Homo sapiens: one gene and its partners. The protein of the gene in region 2 interacts with the protein of the main gene of each other region in a biochemical or structural test. Each region holds a gene or a part of one and is shown on either strand. Other genes may lie near its edges.

Region 1 (7,035 bases), on a different chromosome or scaffold from region 2:
GGAGGCAGAGGTTGCAGTGAATTGAGATTGCACCACTGCCCTCCGGCCTGGGCGACAGAGCGAGACTCCGTCTCAAAAAAAAAAAACAAAAACAAACTTTAAAATTGGAAATAACATATGTAAGCTCATGCACAGGCCTTTCATTTCCATAATGCTTCAAAATGCAGTCCTGTGTGACATCTTATTTGATTATTTTTATAGGGAGAAGATGCTCTGCAGTGGTTGTTTTCATACACTGCTGACTCTCACAGTGAAATGGTTTTAAGGGGTGCCATTATATATTGCTTACAGATTCCCTAGTGTCAAGTTCCATCCTCTATCATGTATATGTTATTCTGTGAGTAAGATACCCAGAAGGCCAAAATTAAAACTCTTTATGAAAGTTTAAATACAAATACAGAATAGTGTCAATTAAGATAAAGCAGTGTTTCTAAGTAATGTCATTGAAAAAAGAGGTATATTTCATCTCAAAACATTCTGGAATTCTCTTTTCGTGATGGTAGAGGAAATAACTGAACTTGAGTACAGTATTTTAAGTAATTATTTGTAATTAGGTTTGCCTTATGTACATTTATGAGCCAGTTTCTTAAATTTGTAGTAGATACTGCTATGGTCCTGATAGTGGGAAAGTACCAAATCAAGAAGTTTAACTTGAATTTGTGTACCTCCTGTCTCCCATTTTGTGTAATGGTTAGCATGGCATGCATTGGGCACTTATTTTGTTTGATTATGTATATGATCAAATTGAGTATCCCTGGAGGGATAAGGAAAAGGTAGTATGGCATCTTCTGTCAAAATGAAGTAATTGGGCACAGAGAGGTCATGTAACTGAACCCGTACGGGGGTCAAGATGGTGGAGCTTATGAGTTTTGACTCAGTCTTTACTATGCTAAACTTACCCAATCCCCAACTAAATCAAAAGGTGGCTTGCACTGGGATCTTTTTGACTTTACAATGGGTTTATCCGGATAGTAAATGCATTTTTTTACTTGAGAAGGGTTTATCCTGACAGTCTCATCATAAGTCAGGGAGCATCTATATAGTGCAGTAAAGGTGAAGGTGAAATATTGTATTACATTGCATGAAATGTCTTTTCATGGCTGGGCTGTAAACACCAATATAATTAGTCTAATTCTAGGCACTCTGGGTGGATCGATTGTGTTTATGCAATGTTGTTGGTTTAGGGAAACATTTGTTATTCATTATTTAAAGTAGCTTTTGTTTTGTTTGTTTTTGTTTTTGTTTTGAGACAGAGTCTCACTATGGCTCAGGCTGGAGTGCAGTGGCGTGGTCTCAGCTCACTGCAATCTCCACCTCCTGGGTTCAAGCGGTTCTAGAGATGGAGTTTCACCATGTTGGCCAGGCTGGTCTCGAGCTCCCGACCTCAGGTGATCTTCCCACCTTGGCCTCCCGGAGTACTGGGATTACAGGCATGAGCCACCACACCTGGCCTAAAGTAGCTTTTAATTATGGAGAATGTGGCAGAACTCACTTTTAGTAACAGCTTTATTCAATGTAATTTGTATACCATAAAATTTACACTTTTAAAGTATACAGTTTGGACCGTGTGCAGTGGCTCACTCCTGTAATCCCAGCACTTTGGGATGCCAAGGCAAGAGGATCACTTAAGCCCAGGAATTCAAGACCAGCCTAAGTAACATAGTGAGACCACGTCTCTACAAAAAAAATTTTAAAAATTAGCCAGGGGTGGTGGCATGTACCTGTGGTCCCAGCTACTTGGGAGGCTGCAGTGGGAGGATTGCTTAAGCCCTGGAGGTCAAGGCTGCAGTGAGCCATTATCTCACTACTGTACTCCAGCCTGGGTGACAGAGCAAGACCCTGTATGATTTGGTGGGGTTTAGTATATTCAGAGATGTTCAACCATCATTATTATCTAATTTCAGAACCTTTTTATCACCCCCAAAGAAAAGTCCTTTATATAGGACTAACAATTCCTTTTCATTTATCTTTTTATTTATTGAAGTGAAACATCACTTAGAACATGGTTCTCAGCTAAGGGACAGTCTTTTCATCCCAAACCCTCATCCCACCCCAGAGCATTTGGCAGTGTCCAGAGACGCTTTTGGTTGTCAGAGTGGAATGGGGATCGGGGATTACTATTGGCATCTAATGAGCAGAATCAGAGATAACTGCTAAAATCCCCCCATGACAAATTACCTAAGCTAAAATATCAGCAGTGCTGAGATAGAGAAACTCTGAGTTAAGAAGTAGGCTGTATTTATTTTAGTATCTATTATAACAAATCCTGTTTATTAAGAAAACCATGAATGTGTTGTCTCTTGTTTAACGGCTTCTGGACTTAGCAATATTTCCGTTTTTAAGATCTTTTATTAAACCTGTATGGGTATATAAAGAGCTGGAGGTGTGTTTTCCCCACTGTAGACCATGTATAAATAATTGGGACAGGTTTTGTTTTGTGAGGTGATTGATTTGTTAACTTTTTAACCAGTTCACATAAGATTTAGAGAAAATTAAAGAATTGGACCAGTTCATTGTTGAATTGCAAAGGATTGATAAACCTGGAGCATTAAACAGTGCTTTACTTATAAAGCAGAGGGAACACTGTTGAAATCTAAACATGTAATGGGCCTAGGTATTGAGGGAGCAAAGGGCATGGAGGATTTAGATAACATCTTTTCTCAGTTAACTGGAATGAAACGGAGTGGAACAAACACGGGCACCTACTTTAGGTTTATTGATTTTGCTTTCCAAGGGCTAATTCCTTTAAACCTGCTGCTTATATTTTGACTGAGTCAGTGCTGCTGCTACAGTTAAATAAGTTGAAGATCTTGTAAGGAATTTTAGCCTGTTTTTTTAAGACTCATCTAACAGGTGGGGCGCAGTAGCTCAGGCCTGTAATCCCAGCACTTTGGGATACAGAGGCGGGCAGATCACCTGGGGTTGGGAGTTGGAGACCAGCCTGACCAACATGGAGAAACCCCATCTCTATTAAAAATACAAAATTAGCCAGGTGTGGTGGTGCATGCCGGTAATCCTCGCTACTTGGGAGGCTGAGGCAGGAGAATCGCTTGAACCCGGGAGGCGGAGGTTTCGGTGAGCCGAGATTCCACCATTGCACTCCAGCCTAGGCAACAAGAGCAAAATTTCTGTCTCAAAAAAAAAGACTTATCCAACAGTAATTTCTTTTTTTTTTCCTTTTTTTTTTTTTCTTTTTTTTGTGGGGGACGGAGTCTCGCTTTGTAGCCCAGGCTGGAGTGCAGTGGCACGATCTCAGCTCACTGCAAGCTCCGCCTCCCGGGTTCACGCCATTCTCCTGCCTCAGCCTCCCGAGTAGCTAGGACCACAGGTGCCCGCCACCATGCCCGGCTAATTTTTTTGTATTTTTAGTAGAGACGGGGTTTCACCATGTTAGCCAGGATGGTCTCGATCTCCTGACCTCGTGATCCACCCGCCTCGGCCTCCCAAAGTGCTGGGATTACAGGCGTGAGCCACCACACCCAACAGTAATTTCTTAACCAGAGGGCCTGGGAGTGGGTGGCAATCAGAGGAGGGGGAGACTTGTGATTTGAAAAGACATTCTAAGATTTAAAAGTGCTTTTAATATTTTTTAGTCATGATATTTAATTTGTTTGGAAATTTCAAATAACGTTAAAGAAGAAACTTGTTTGTCAAAGGAGTCAAGGGGTGAGAGTTGAGAAACTGTGATCTACAAAGTTGATTTAAGCCAAATCGGACTAAAGGGCAGATTAATTCCACATTCTGCTGTTTTGGTAGAAGATACGTATATAGAACAAAGAGGAAAGGGATACCTTATTCAGATTGTTAATGTTCTTTTGTTGAACTTGACCTTATTGTACTGACCACCAGTTCTGTTTTTATCCTCCCAGTGGAAGGACAGGTTAATAATTGGATATTAGCTGATGGTACTAGATTAAGCCCCATGAGGGTAAGGATCTGTAGCTAGCATCATATTAATCCCAGACACTATTTTTGAATTAAATGATATGAAAAAGTCTAAAATAAGCCCACGCACTGTAAGTGGTTTACCTCATGTCTTACTCGTGTTCGCTTATTAAAATCTCCCATAGATCTTTGCATATGAGGCTGGGCACAGTGGCTCATGCCTGTAATCGCAGCATTTTGGGAGGCCGAGGTGGGTGGATCATTTGGGGTCAGGAGTTTGAGACCAGCCTGGCCAACATGGTGAAACCCCATCTCTACTAAAAATACAAAAATTAGCCAGGCTTGGTGGCACATGCCTGTAATCCCAGTTACTCAGGAGGCTGAGGCAGGAGAATCACTTGAACCTGGGAGGCAGAGGTTATAGTGAGCCAAGATGGCGCCACTGCACTCCAGCCTGGACAAGAGTGAGACTCCCTCTAAAAAAAAAAAAAAACCTTTGCATATGAGCTGCAGCAATAAAAGTGCTATGAGACCCAACCTCTCTGTAACCGTATTCTTTGAAAGCTGTGGAATAAGGCCAAGTGCAGTGGCTCACATCTAATCCCAGCACTTTGGAAGGCTGAGACGGGTGGACCACTTGAGGCCAGGAGTTGAAGACCAATCTGGGCAGTGTAGCAAGACCCCTGCCTCTACAAAAAATTTTAAAATTAGCTGGGCATGGTGGTGCATGCCTATAGTCCCAGCTACTCAAGAGGCTACAGTGGGAGAATTGCTTGAGCCCAAAAGGTCAAAGCTGCAGTGAGCCACGATTGCACCACTGCAAAAAAAGAAAAAAGAAAAAGCAGGCCGGGCGCGTTGGCTCACGTCTGTAATCCCAGCACTTTGGGAGGCTAATCACGAGGTCAGGAGATCAAGACCATCCTGGCTAACACTGTGAAACTAAAAAAAAAAAAAAAATTAGCCTGGCGTGGTGGCACGCGCCTGTAGTCCCAGCCACTTGGGAGGCTGAGGCAGGAGAAATTGCTTGAACCTGGGAGGCGGAGGTTGCAGTGAACTGAGATCGCGCCACTGCACTCCAGCCTGTATGACAAAGCGAGACTCCGTCTCAAAAAAAAAAAAAAAAGCGTAGGATGGATTCAAAATGTGATCTGGTTGATCATAAACAATACTTTTGGAGCTGGATTAATATTAAGTCACTTGAGAGATACAGAAAATACCATGTTCGTGGTCAACTTTGATTATTTTAGCCGGGTTCATCTGGTTTGCACATTGAGACCGTAATACTTCAGGTTCTAATTGTGTCCAGAAGGCTATGTGTTAACATTCATAGCAAACTGGTTACCTTTATTTCCTGAAAGTTAAATTTTGAAAGAAAGGGATACCAAGTGAGAAAGCAACCTTCAGTTAAACAAAGGGGTACATCAAGTTTGATATTCTTGGATTAAAAATCAGGTGACAATTGGAACATGGAGGAGAAATTCATGATTATAAAAACCATGAAGCCAATCTTTTTTACAACAAAGCTGCTTGTTTTTTTCTTAATCATGTAGTGGCTGCTATCAGGCCAGTTCTGGAACTTCACTGAGTCCCTCTGCTCTTCTGAATCAGCTCTTGATTGGTGGTGACTTCTCGGAAGTTCTGAGGACCACAAAGAAAGAGCAGTGTCAGTTCACTAAGTTGAGCCATTTGGAGATTACTAAATATTCCATAACTGTGGGAAACACTTAAATGTGTTGGTTATTAGGGTTTTCGTGTGTTTTCCTTTTAGCATTACATCCTCATATGCAGTGTTGTTATAGTAGAGGAGGACATTTTTTCTAGAGGGCAGAGAGATCTAGGGAATATGACTGTTAACATTTGAACACTTTCAAATAGCAGTACGTTTTACTGTGGTTTTGATAACCTGACATAGAATAAGCTGCTGAGATGCAAGGATACCTTGGTATATAGAAAGAGCCTTAGACTTCGTATGAAAAAAACTTAGGTTTTATCTTCAGCCTAGCCATCTAATGTCTCTGTAACTTTACAGACATCTGGTGTTTCACTTAACCTCTCTGAGACTTAGTTTCCTTTTCTGTAAATTGATAGTTGTGGCCAGGCACCATGGCTCATACCTGTAATCCCAGCATTTTGGGAGGCTGAGGCAGGAGGATCACTTGAGCCTGGGATCCTCCAGGATACTTGAGACCAGCCTGGGCAACATAGGGAATTAAAAAACTTTTTAAAAATCAGCTGGGCGTGGTAGTGTGCCTCTGTGGTCCCAGCTATTGAGGAGGCTGTGGGAGGATCACATGAGCATGGGAGGGTTGAGGCTTCAGATAGCCGTGGCCACACCACTGCACTACAGCCTGGACAACAGAGCAAGACCCTGTCTCAAAAAAAAAAAATGGGGCCGGGTGTGGCGGTTCACACCGTAATCCCAGCACTTTCGGAGGCCGAGGCAGGAGGATCACCTGAGGTTAGGAGTTCAAGACCAGCCTGGCCAACATGGTGAAACCCCGTCTCTACTAAAAACACAAAAAATTAGCTGGGCATGGTGGCGGGTGCCTGTAATCCCAAGTATTCGGGAGGCTGAGGCAGGAGAATTGCTTGAACCCAGGAGGCAGGGGTTGCAGTGAGCCGAGATGGCACCATTGCACTCCAGCCTGGACAACAAGAGCAAGACTCTGTCTCAAAAAAAAAAAAAAAAAGACAGTTGTGATTCCTTCCCTATATGGTTTGTTTACAAGTGTCAAAACAGTCTTCAAAACTGCCATACTGAATATGTTATGTGAGATACGAATTTTTATTGATCTTTTTTATCCAAAGAGCAGTGAAAGTAGTAACTGAATAGAAGTAGTTACAAAATTAAAGATCTCAAATGATAAGTGAATATAGTAGAAAATAAAAGGTTGCCCCCACACTCCAAACATACTCTCCAGGGTGTATCTCAAACACTCAGACCCTTTTCCGTACGTAAACATGTGTTTACACATAATAGGTATTCTGCAACTTTTAAATTTCTTATTTATGTCTGCATAGTACCCCTTCATGGAAATGCCATAATTTAACCATTTGAGGAGCGTCCATGTTATTTCTTTCTAAATAATGTTTTACAATATTGCATTGTACAACTCTGTAAATACCTGAGTATTGGTGAATAATCTTTCT
Region 2 (7,035 bases):
AAGATGAAGCTATTCATTAAGGGGGGAGAAAAGTAACACAGACTATTATTTCTAGGAAGAAAAGCTAATAGCTCCAACATACCTGCCACAATTCCATGCTGATAGCACTGTCCAGCTGAACAAGTCTGGTTTCCAAATGCATGGACTGGCTCTCTGGATTATTAAGATTGATTGCCGTACTTTGGTTATGGTGGCGCTGAATCTGCGATAAGTGCATTCTCAAATTGTCACACAGTTTACGGAATTCAGCCTTACGCGTGTATTGGAGGCAGAATTTGAAAGCTATAAGCATAATTGTAAAATATATTAGGTACCTTCCACTATCTACTTAAATATTTGAATAGGTTTTATTTCACACATTAAGATCAGTTGTTTTAACAGGATTCACCAAACTCATCATTAGTCTTTGTGATGCAATGAGAATCAACTTATTTCATCCAGACTACCTTTTTGAGTGAGCCCTAACAAAACCAAAGACATAATCACTGGTCCTTGCTTACAACTAAAATGTGGTGCTGGCAGAGTTTACAAATGGGAAACTAGAATTTAGATCTAGGGGTCACCTTTCAAAGACCCACCACTTTAAATCCTAGGAGTAAAAAAATCTAGTATGAAATATAATGAACTTTGATATCTAACTTACATAGTAAGAAACAAGGTTCTGTACTAATTAAAACTACATAATACAAATTGAGGGCTTATAGTAACCTAATTTCAACTGATTACAGATGAACTACTTGTTCTGTCATTTAACTGGACACGTTAATTTTTTTACCGTCACATATGCACTATTAGATTATTTTTTAGATTTCCTTTCCCCTTAAAAATAGTTATGTCTATTTTAACAGGCCTAAAACAGAGATGCAGTTTAACTTCAAGTTAATATTTGTATCAACAGCTATCAAAAAGTCCAAATTTACTTGTATGAAAGTGAAAATTCAGCTGGGCGCGATGGCTCACGCCTGTAATCCCAGCACTTTGGGAGGCCGAGGTGGGTGGATCACAAGGTCAGGAGATTGAGACCATCCTGGCTAACACGGTGAAACCCCATCTCTACTAAAAATACAAAAAATTAGCCGAGCATGGCAGCGTGCGCCTGTAGTCCCAGCTGTTGGGAAGACTGAGGGAGAAGAATGGCGTGAACCTGGGAGGCGGAGCTTGTAGTGAGCCGAGATTGCGCCACTGCACTCCAGCCTGGGCCACAGAGCAAGACTCTGTCTCAAAAAAAAAAAAAAAAAAAAAAGAAAGAAAAAAAGAAAGAAAGTGAAAATTCAGGCTGGGCAGAGCTGTAATCCCAGCACTTTGGGAGGCTGAAGCAAGAGGATCACTTGAGTCCAGAAGTCTGAGACCAGCCTGAGCAACAATGCAAGATCCCAGCTCTTTTTTAAAAACTAAAAATAAATTAAAAAAAAAAAAAAAAGTAGAGAACTCAAGTTCACTAAAAAAAAAAAAAATGGAAAAGTTTATTTTTTCAGTTATACAGAGAATTCCAAAATAACTTTAAAATGTCTTTCATTATTACTGATGTTTGTGTAAAAAGAAAAAAAAAGATCTTTCAGATATCAATAAAATACAATTCACACAAAACTCCTTTAAAGAGTAAAACAAATTCCTTACTCAGTCATTTTGGTTTTGTTTTGTTTTGTTTTGTTTTGTTTTGTTTTGTTTTGAGACAGAGTCTTGCTGTTACCAAGGCTGGAGTGCAACAGTGCCATCCTGGCTCACTGCAACCTCCGCCTCCTGGGTTCAAGCGATCCTGCCACCTCAGCCTCCTAAACAGTTGGGATTACAGGCATACACCACCACGCCCGGCTAAATTTTTTGTATTTTTAGTAGAGAAGGGGCTTCACCATGTTGGCCAGGCCGCTCTTGAACTCCTGACCTCAAGTGATCCACCCACCTTGACCTCCCAAAGTGCTGGGATTACAGGTGTGAGCCACCACATCCGGCCGCAGTCATTTAATACTCATGTGAATGCCAACATTTCAATAAGGATAAAAACTAGTTCATTTTAAGTACTTTTCAGAAAATTTACTCCTCAGTCAATTTCAAAGCACTTCACTCAGATTTGATCTTCTCATCTTACCTTGCTGGGCAATATCATGGTACAGGCGCTCTACTCTAGAATTGTTTCTAAGAAGGTCCAAACACTGCCTGTAAGACTCCCACAGGAATTTAACCCATGGAGTTAAAAGTAATCTGTCAGTACGATCCTGAGTGTCTTCACCACTTACAGCACTTAGGAGAACACTACAAAGAAAAAAATGTTGAAAACAATTTTAGACAGTTTCCTACTTTGCCATGTGATTAAAAACCAAAACAATGTTCATCAGAAAACAGTGCAAATTCTTCCCACAATATGTACACACTGCAAAGGTGTCACTATCTACTCCCTGAATTCCCAATCTGCATTATGTTCATTTAAATTGGTATTTGCCCCTCTATCTTAAGGCTGTCATTTTCCACTTCTATGAATTTTTATTACCTACATAAATTAACTGGTTACTATGCATTTAAAACTTCAAAGATTTGCATTTTTTTCTGATAAACATCTACTTCAAAAGGAAATGAAGACCCATGTAAAAGAAAACACCAAGTTAACTATCAAAGCATTTATTAGAGGTCTAACCCACATACCTCTCAGGAGTTTGAATATTATCTAGATCCTCTATATCTAAGACCATCTGCTGAGATTCTTCTTTAGCAGCTTCAGTTTTTTCCTCTGCCATTTTCAAATATGCCCTAACAACATCCTCCAGAGATTTTATGTTCACCTAATCCAAAAAAACAAAAACTCTTCAGAACTTATTTTTCCATTGAACCATAAGATGTTTTAAAGGCAAATTTTTAAGAGAAATACAATATATTCACTTCGAAAGGTAAGTTCTTCGGCAGATTACTAAAAACACTTGTTAAAAATATACAACCCAGTTCCGTTTGTACCTGTTGACAAATGTTCTTATACTGGTATAACCCCTCCTTTGCCAAGTGGCTCTTGCGAAGATCCACGCAAAGTTCCAAGTATTTCAACATAATTGGTTCGTGTATCTTTTGCCATGTTCTATGTTTTTTACTTTTCATAACATCATAAAGAACATCCAGAGCAGGCTGCTTTTTGCCAACCTCAAGAAATTCTGAAAAATTCAGAAGAATTAAAATTAGTTATGTACACTATACAAGAGTCTAAACTTTACCTTTTTAAACAGCTATTTCAATTCCCCAACTCATTACCAACTTTTTACCAAGTTACATTTATTTTTGACTTCTAAAGCTATGCCATAATTATCAAAAGTAAAACAACAGAAAGACCTGTACTGTGTTGAAATATGATCTACAAGTAAAACTGAATCACTGTATTCCACTGTGATTTAAAAGTTCCAGGCCGGGCGCAGTGGCTCATGCCTGTAATCCTAGCAATTTGAGAGGCCGAGGTGGGCCAATCACTTGAGGTCTAGAGCTGGAGACCAGCCTGGCCAATACGGTGAAACCCATCCCTACCAAAAATACAAAAATTAGCCAGGCGTGGTGGTATGTGCCTGTAGTGCCAGCTACTGAGGAGGCTGAGGCAGGAGAATCACTTGAACCCAGGAGGCGGAGGTTGCAGTGAGCCGAGATCGCACCATTGCACTCCAGCCTGGGTGACAAGAGCGAAATTCCGTGTCTCAAAAAAAAAAAATAAAATAAATAATGTGTCGGTATTGGTTCATTAGTTGTTACCAATAAAAATCAACATGGGAGAAAGTGGGTGTGGTGTCAATGAAACTATGCACTCTCTTTGCAACACTCTGGAAATCTCAAACTGCTCTAAAAAATTCTTTTTTTTTTTAAATAAAAAAATAGAAAAATGGGGCCGGGAGCGGTGGCTTATGCCTGTAATCCCAACACTTTGGGAGGACGAGGAGGGCAGATCACTTGAGGTTGGGAGTTCAAGACCAGCCTAACCAAAATGGAGAAACCAAGTCTCTACTAAAAATACAAAATTAGCAGGGCGTAGTGGTGCATGCCTGCGGAGGCTGAGGCAGGGGAATTACATGAACCTGGGAGGCAGAGGTTGCGGTCAGCTGAGATGGCGCCACTGCACTCCGGCCCGGGCAACAAGAACGAAACTCCAACTCAAAAAAAAAAAAAAAAAAAAAAAGGGAAAAAAATGGAATACAAAGCAAAATAACTTATTTTTTTTCTTTTTTTTTTTTTTTGACATGGAATCTCGCTGTGTCGCCCAGGCTGGAGTACACTGGCGTCATCTCAGCTCACCGCAACCGATTCTCCTGCCTCAGCCTCCTGAGTAGCTGGGATTACAGGCACCCACCACAGGGCCCGGCTAATTTTTGTATGTTTAGTACAGACAGGGTATCACCATCTTGGCCAGGCTGGTCTCGAACTCCTGACCTCATGATCCACCCGCCTTGGCCTCCCAAAGTGCTGGGATTACAGGCATGGGTCACCATGCCCAGACAACTTATATTCTTTTGAATTTATTATCCCCTGAGCCCGAAGGCATTCTATGTGGTAACATTTCAAAACCCAGTTCCAATTTTAAGTTTTATGCATATTGTTTGTTTTGAAATACAGTCAAAAGCAATACCTTTGCCATTACATTATTTCTGACCAAGGTTAAAATTTATCTTAAATTTCCTCATCTTTTATTTTCTTTTGTACACTTAATAGACTGGGGGAGAAAGAGGTTATTTAACCTAAGTCAACTGGTTAAATTCATCTTAACATTCATTAATTGCAAATTTCACACACACACAAACTTCCCAATGAACATTTAAAAAATAATTTGGGGGAACTAAAACACTACACTAAAAAAAAAAAGGGGGGGAGCTTAAAACACTATATATATACATATATATATATATATCTCCTTTTTAAAAATATCATTGTTTATTTTCCTTGGAAAAAGACTTTTTTTTTTTTTTTTTTTTTGGACAGAGTCTTGCTCTGTCACTCAGGCTGGAGTGCAGTGGTGCAATCTCAGCTCACTGCAAGCTCCGCCTCCCGGGTTCACGTCATTCTCCTGCCTCAGCCTCCTGAGTCGCTGGGACTACGGAGCTCGCCACCACGCCTGGCTAATTTTTTTTTTTTTTTTTTTTGTATTTTTAGTAGAGGCGGGGTTTCACCGTGTTAGCCAGGATGGTCTCAATCTCCTGACCTCGTGATCTGCCCACCTCGGCCTCCCAAAGTGCTGGGGATACAGGCGTGAGCCACCGCACCCAGCCAATACTTTTTCTTTTAAGAGCTATCTGATAATGGCCGGGCGCAGTAGCTCACGCCATAATCACAGCACTTTGGGAGGCGGGTGGATCACGAGGTCAGGAGATCGAGACCATCCTGGCTAACACGGTGAAACCTCGTCTCTACTAAAAATACAAAAAATTAGCTGGGCCATGGTGATGCACGCCCGTAATCCTAGCTACTTGGGAGGCTGAGGCAAGACAATTACTTGAATTCAGGAGGCGGAGGTTGCGGTGAGCCGAGATAGCGCCACTGTACTCCAGCCTGGGCAACAAGTCTCCAAAAAAAAAAAAAAAAAGTTTGCTACAGGATAAATCACAAAACATACTGAAATAAATCTTTGTACAATACCTTATATGAAATCACATTTTTCACATGCAAATAATGACAAAACCCTTCACCACTGCATGAAAAAGTCCATCTTTCGCTGACTCCATCTTACTATCAAAAAAAAAACTTACTAAATGAAACAAAGATGTAATATATAACTAGATATTTTGTTGAAATAAGCCTTTCCTTGTTGTCAGGGGTGGGGGTGGGAGGGAAAAAACTTGCAGTCTTCTCCTGGTCTTCTCCTATATAGTGCATGTAAGGTTATTTTCTAAAATGTAACAGTACAGCCAGGCGCCTTGGCTCACACCTATAATCCTAGCCCTCTGGGAGGCCAAGGCATCACTTGCGGTCAGGAGTTCCAGATCAGCCTGGGCAACATGGTGAAACCTTGTCTCCACTAAAAACACAAAAATTAGCCAGGCATGGTGGTGCATGCCTGTAATCCCAAATACTCGGGAGGCTGAGACTTTAGAATCACTTGAACCCAGGAGGCGGAGGTTGCAGTGAGCCAAGATTGCGTCACTGCACTCCAGCCTGGGCAATAGAGGGAGAGACTCTGTCTCAAAAAAAAAAAAAAAAGAAAATGTAACAGTACATTAGGCGTTCTTCATAACTAACAAAAACAGTCTCTTATCAGCAAAAAACTTGGGAGTAAATGCGTTTAATGGAATTTATACTTTAAGAAAATCACAGCAGCAGCACTAAAATGACCTATTGTATCCAACTCCTAATCTAAAAAGGGCTTGCTTAAAGATGGAACTGAAACCATTTTTCACTTCCTGAACAGCCAATTAGAAGTTGATTCCTTAGCCAGGCGCGGTGGCTCACGCCTGTAATCCCAGCACTTTGGGAGGCTAAGGCGAGCAGATCACTTGAGGCCAAGGGTTCAAGATCAGCCTGGGAAATATGGTGAAAAAAATTAAAAAATTAGCTGGGCATGGTGGGACACACCTGTAATCCCAGCTACTTGGGAGGCTGAGGCAGGAGAATCGCTTGAGCCTGGGAGGCGGAGGTTGCAGTGGGCCGAGATAGTGCCACTGCACTCCAGCCTGGCCAACAGAGAGAGATTCTGTCTCAAATAAATAAATAAATAGTTGGAATGGGAACAGATTTTTCATAATCCATGACAGTGAGTCTTCTGCCTTTGTCCTAATTTATATACAAGAATTTAGTTCCTCCGAATTTTTTTTTTTTTTTGGAGAAGGAGTCTCGCTCTGTCACCCACGCTGGAGTGCAGTGGCGCAATCTCAGCTCACTGCAAGCTCCACCTCCTGGGTTCATGCCATTCTCCTGCCTCAGCTTCCTGAGTAGCTGGGACTACAGGTGCCCGCCACCACACCAGGCTAATATTTTTGTATTTTTACTAGAGACGGTTTCACTGTGTTAGTGAGGATGGTCTTGATCTCCTGACCTTGTGATCCACCCGCTTCGGCCTCCCAAAGTGCTGGGATTACAGGCATGAGC
Region 3 (4,274 bases), on a different chromosome or scaffold from region 2:
TACATAATAAAACCTAACAAAAAATGGAACAGTACTTACCCTTATTGAGTACAATGTACTTGTCAATGTTTAAAATGCTCATCATGACCCACTAATGAACATGCTATGACTCACAATTGAAAAGGACTCTTCATTTCCACTCAGTTAATGCTATAATTGGTGAACATAATACAGATGGCTGCTTTAATAATTTACTTGAACCTGGTTCTTAGCTCTAGTTATATGCAAGACAGTCCATAAATCTGTTTCCAGTTACTGGCAGTAAGTTTTTCTATTGATATTGCTGAAAAACTTAATAACTGTTAAGCTTTATTATATTAAAGGTGTGCCAATATTTTCCTTTGTGTGGAAAAATATTATATAGCTTTAGAACTAAATGTATACTTGGAGATTTAACCATTTTTGTTTTTGTTTTGTTTTAGTCAAATATTGGAGATAATGTCAGCAGTGAGAGATGAGGATCCACTGGAATTAGCCAATACACTATATAACAATACTATTAAAGTATTTTTTCCTGGAATATAATTGGTATATGTCTTCCACTTTCCATCATGTATGTAAAATTTCATAGTAAAACTTCCTGATAGTTTCAATAAAGAAATTATCTGCAAGTTGTCTAAAGAAATACTATATATCGGTACACACCATTCCCCACCATTCCCCTTCTTTTTCTCGTAAAATCAGATCAGGATGTTTTTATATCATTGAGTATCTTAGTTTAAAACAATTTAAAAAAAACTATTTTTGTTTTGTAATATCTTCAAAAGAATGAAAGGACAATTTTATGACAATACTGCAGACACAGAATGGCTAACAAATATACAATTTTACATAAAAAACATTTAGCACATTCTGGTTTATATCAAAGTTTAGTTGATACAGTTTATTTGTCAACCCTCAGTCTCTCTCTGAATCAGGACTTTCAAACTCAGCTCAATTACACTGCTACTCAAGTTTCAAAAAAGGTCCTCAGTTGCTTCTGGCAGCTAATTTTTTCTTTAGTTTTAAAATACTCTCTCATGTCCTTTATCCTCTGGTCAAATTATTTTATTTCCTTGACTTTAATGTGGTTTCCTGATTTGCATTTTCATTCTCCCACCCATTTCTAAAGAAAAACTGAGGTCCAAAGTTACATTATATAATTTCATTGAAGAATATTTGGCACAGGTGACGCACCATATGATCATTACATCTATTAAAAAGCTATTTGTTCAAATTTTGTCATAAAAATGTGAAAACATTTTATTCTATGTACAATAATGTACACAAATTTAAACAGGTCACCAAAGAGACCAGAAGTAATTAAAGAGGTATATTTACAGTAGCACATCACAGTAAACGGAAAACCATTCACAGATTCAACATTGATACTGTTTTTGTGCTTGGTTACACACTGAAGGTGAAGGATATTACTCCATTTTGGATGAACTGAATTTTAAACAAATACCTCAATCATTAATAAATGCTATTTTCATCAGTCAGTATCATCATTAAATTCTTCAGCTGCTGCGCCTGTGTGCTGAATCACTCCATTTCTTTCTCTTTGAACATCATCATCACAATCTGTACTGTCATCTTCGTTCAATTCCCTGTCAGATTCAGCAGCAGCTTCTCTTACAGCTTCCTCTGGAGTTTCATTGGGTGGAATAAATCCATTGTTGTTAGATACATTTGAATTATCCTTGATATCATCTTCGATGTATACTTTCTGATGGCACATTGGACAAGTATCTTGAATGTACAGCCATTTCCGAAGGCAAAGTGCATGGAAATAATGATTACACGGTGTAATACGAGCAGATGTTGTAAACTCATGATAGCAGATTGCACATACATCATTTATTTCTTGTAAGCGGCTCCCTTTTATTTCAGGAAGTGAATTAATTTTCTTCACAGCAGTCCTACGATTCATAAATGTCTTCCAGCCATTTTTGGCTTGTAAGTAGATGTTAAAATATGCATGTAGGCACATCATAAAAGCCCGAATTTTACTTCCCGACTCAAACATCATAGTGTAAGCCCCATTTCCAAACATTACAACTCCAAATATAAATTCAATAATACTGCCTGTTGAACGAACGTAGTAGACATAATCGTCAAGCTTTTCCCAGAGGACATTATAGTAGCCATCAATCATGAATAACGTATAAACAGTGAGAGAAACAATTACTTTTAAGCACAGTTCCACACAAAATGCTGTAACTGCAAACAACCATGTATTTAGTGCATAGTGATGCCAAAGAACATAACTGAGTAAGACAGGAAGAATAAACAGGCAAGCAGAGACAAACAGCACAGGAAAATGTCTACGAAAAGATGACACATGAGAGGCACTGAGAGACATTAATACAGGGTCTGTCATTCCATGGATAAAATGCAGGACTGCAGTTAATAAAAGGCACATGTTTCTACTTAAGCGAATAAGTCTCTCTTCTGGTCTTAGCCCACTTAACCCAGTCTGAAGAGCCAAAATAAAAAATAAAACAGGTGCAACAAAGCCAAGACGCCTGTCATCTTCCTCAGTTGATCCAATAAAGGCCAATATTCCAAGCCCCAAATAATGGGCTACTGAGGAAATTACAGCACTCATGCCCAGTACAGTTAGTGTAGAATCGCACCCACTAATTATAAGATTGCAAATGAGGTCCCAAAAATCATCCCAAGAAATAAAGAAGGAATCAGTTTCATTTGCCATCCTTAAGATGTACATTAACACTGTAGCCTGAGCTGTAACTCTTGTTAGCCAAAAGACTCGTAGTATGTCTGGGAAACGAATCCTCTTCCATGTGTCCTCCATCAATAACTGTAATCCGTAAATTCGATACATGTGCCTCACCAAAAGATAAACATATCGTGTGGAATAATAAAACCACTTCAGTTTCACTGCCAGGACAAACACTGTATTTAATGTGAGAATCAAGGAAGAAGTAAACAGTAAAGTCTCTCTGATGTGTAATGGTAGCTCTGTGATTAAGCCTATTACAGGAACCAAGAGATCCAAAATAATTAATTGTGAATAGATGGAATGAATCTGGAGTAGTGTAACGTATCCAATTCCAAATGTTAGCTGTAGAACGATAAGTGCCATCCACAGCGAGGGACCTTTTCGAGGAAGCAGCTCAATTCCAAAAGCTGACGTGTTGTAGGCACCATAGAAGTCAATGTGCAAAGAAGCATAATAATTCACCAACACTGAAGTTGCAGCTAACAGAAAGGCTGAGCTGTACGTGTAAAACTTGAAAAGTGATCGTTGTGACAAGATCAGAACAATACTGGATGCAAATACACCTAAAAGAAAGAAAGAAAAAGTCATTTGAATGAAGTATTTGTAAGAATGTTTCCCCACTAAGAGTTATGATATTCTTCCTTTAATTAGGAAATATGAATATTTTCAGTTATGAACATTAAGCCTCAAGACAACTAAGGCTTAAAGGGTAATAAAGGTTTTGTAAAGTCAGAGTTCAGGAGAACAGACCAAACATACTAAATTATTCTTTAAAATTTCATTCCTTACTTTCTAATTTCCAAAGTATTTCAAGTAACACTGTAGCTGTCCAAGGCACCAAATTACTAAATTATTTTCAAGATGAATTTGTAGTGGTACATACATTTTAACAAGTTTTAAAACTCAAAAGAATATGTCTTTTATCATTTCATAATCATTAAAATTAATTTTAAAAATTGGGTTAAAAATAACCCAAATGGAAAACATTTATTCCTATTAAGTTTTAGATTCATTTATTATTGACTGACTGAGACAAGAGTCTCACTCTGTTGCCCAGGATGGAGTGCACTGGTGCAATCTCAGCTCACTGCAAATTCTGCCTCCCAGGCTCAAGCAATTCTCCTGCCCCAGCCTCCCAAGTAACTGGGATTACAGGCACCTGCCACCATGCCCAGCTAATTTTTGTATTTTTAGTAGAGACGGGGTTTCACCATGTTGGCCAGACTGGTCTCTAACTCCTGACGTCAAGTGATCCGCCCGCCTTGCCTCCCAAAGTGCTGGGATTACAGGCGTGAGCCACCGCACCCAGCCAAGTTTTAGATTTTTTTTTAAAGGATTCTTTAGGAAATCAAGTTCAAGTTTTATACTTCCACTTAATTCCTCCTTTTCTTCAAACTGTGAACTCATGCCAGCTCTTATTTCCTACTCCTTAACTCTGAGCATTCTCCAAAGGGTCCAAAATTCCATTTTTTTTCCTCCTAGTTTCCTTCGGACTTAGAAACATCTTCCAAGTTCCCTTTTTCCTGTATAATGCTGAATCTGTTTCTTA

The links. Proteins that work in one complex are often made in the same cells at the same time.
Region 1: the proteins of EIF3A (region 2) and EIF4B form a complex in vitro, tested with the Homo sapiens proteins (one study listed by BioGRID and IntAct).
Region 3: the proteins of EIF3A (region 2) and RNF139 form a complex in vitro, tested with the Homo sapiens proteins (one study listed by BioGRID).

The regions. Positions count from the first base shown.
Region 1 is NC_000012.12:53,009,421-53,016,455, forward strand, and holds part of EIF4B (eukaryotic translation initiation factor 4B), read left to right. Parts: intron 1-7,035. UniProt on the Homo sapiens protein: Required for the binding of mRNA to ribosomes. Functions in close association with EIF4-F and EIF4-A. Binds near the 5'-terminal cap of mRNA in presence of EIF-4F and ATP.
Region 2 is NC_000010.11:119,070,804-119,077,838, forward strand, and holds part of EIF3A (eukaryotic translation initiation factor 3 subunit A), read right to left. Parts: intron 3,135-7,035; coding exon 2,944-3,134; intron 2,775-2,943; coding exon 2,638-2,774; intron 2,251-2,637; coding exon 2,087-2,250; intron 283-2,086; coding exon 83-282; intron 1-82. UniProt on the Homo sapiens protein: RNA-binding component of the eukaryotic translation initiation factor 3 (eIF-3) complex, which is required for several steps in the initiation of protein synthesis.
Region 3 is NC_000008.11:124,484,845-124,489,118, reverse strand, and holds the end of RNF139 (E3 ubiquitin-protein ligase RNF139), read right to left. Parts: intron 3,289-4,274; coding exon 1,475-3,288; 3' UTR 526-1,474; downstream 1-525. Other genes in the region: deoxyribonuclease TATDN1, read left to right, coding at 423-525. UniProt on the Homo sapiens protein: E3-ubiquitin ligase; acts as a negative regulator of cell proliferation through mechanisms involving G2/M arrest and cell death.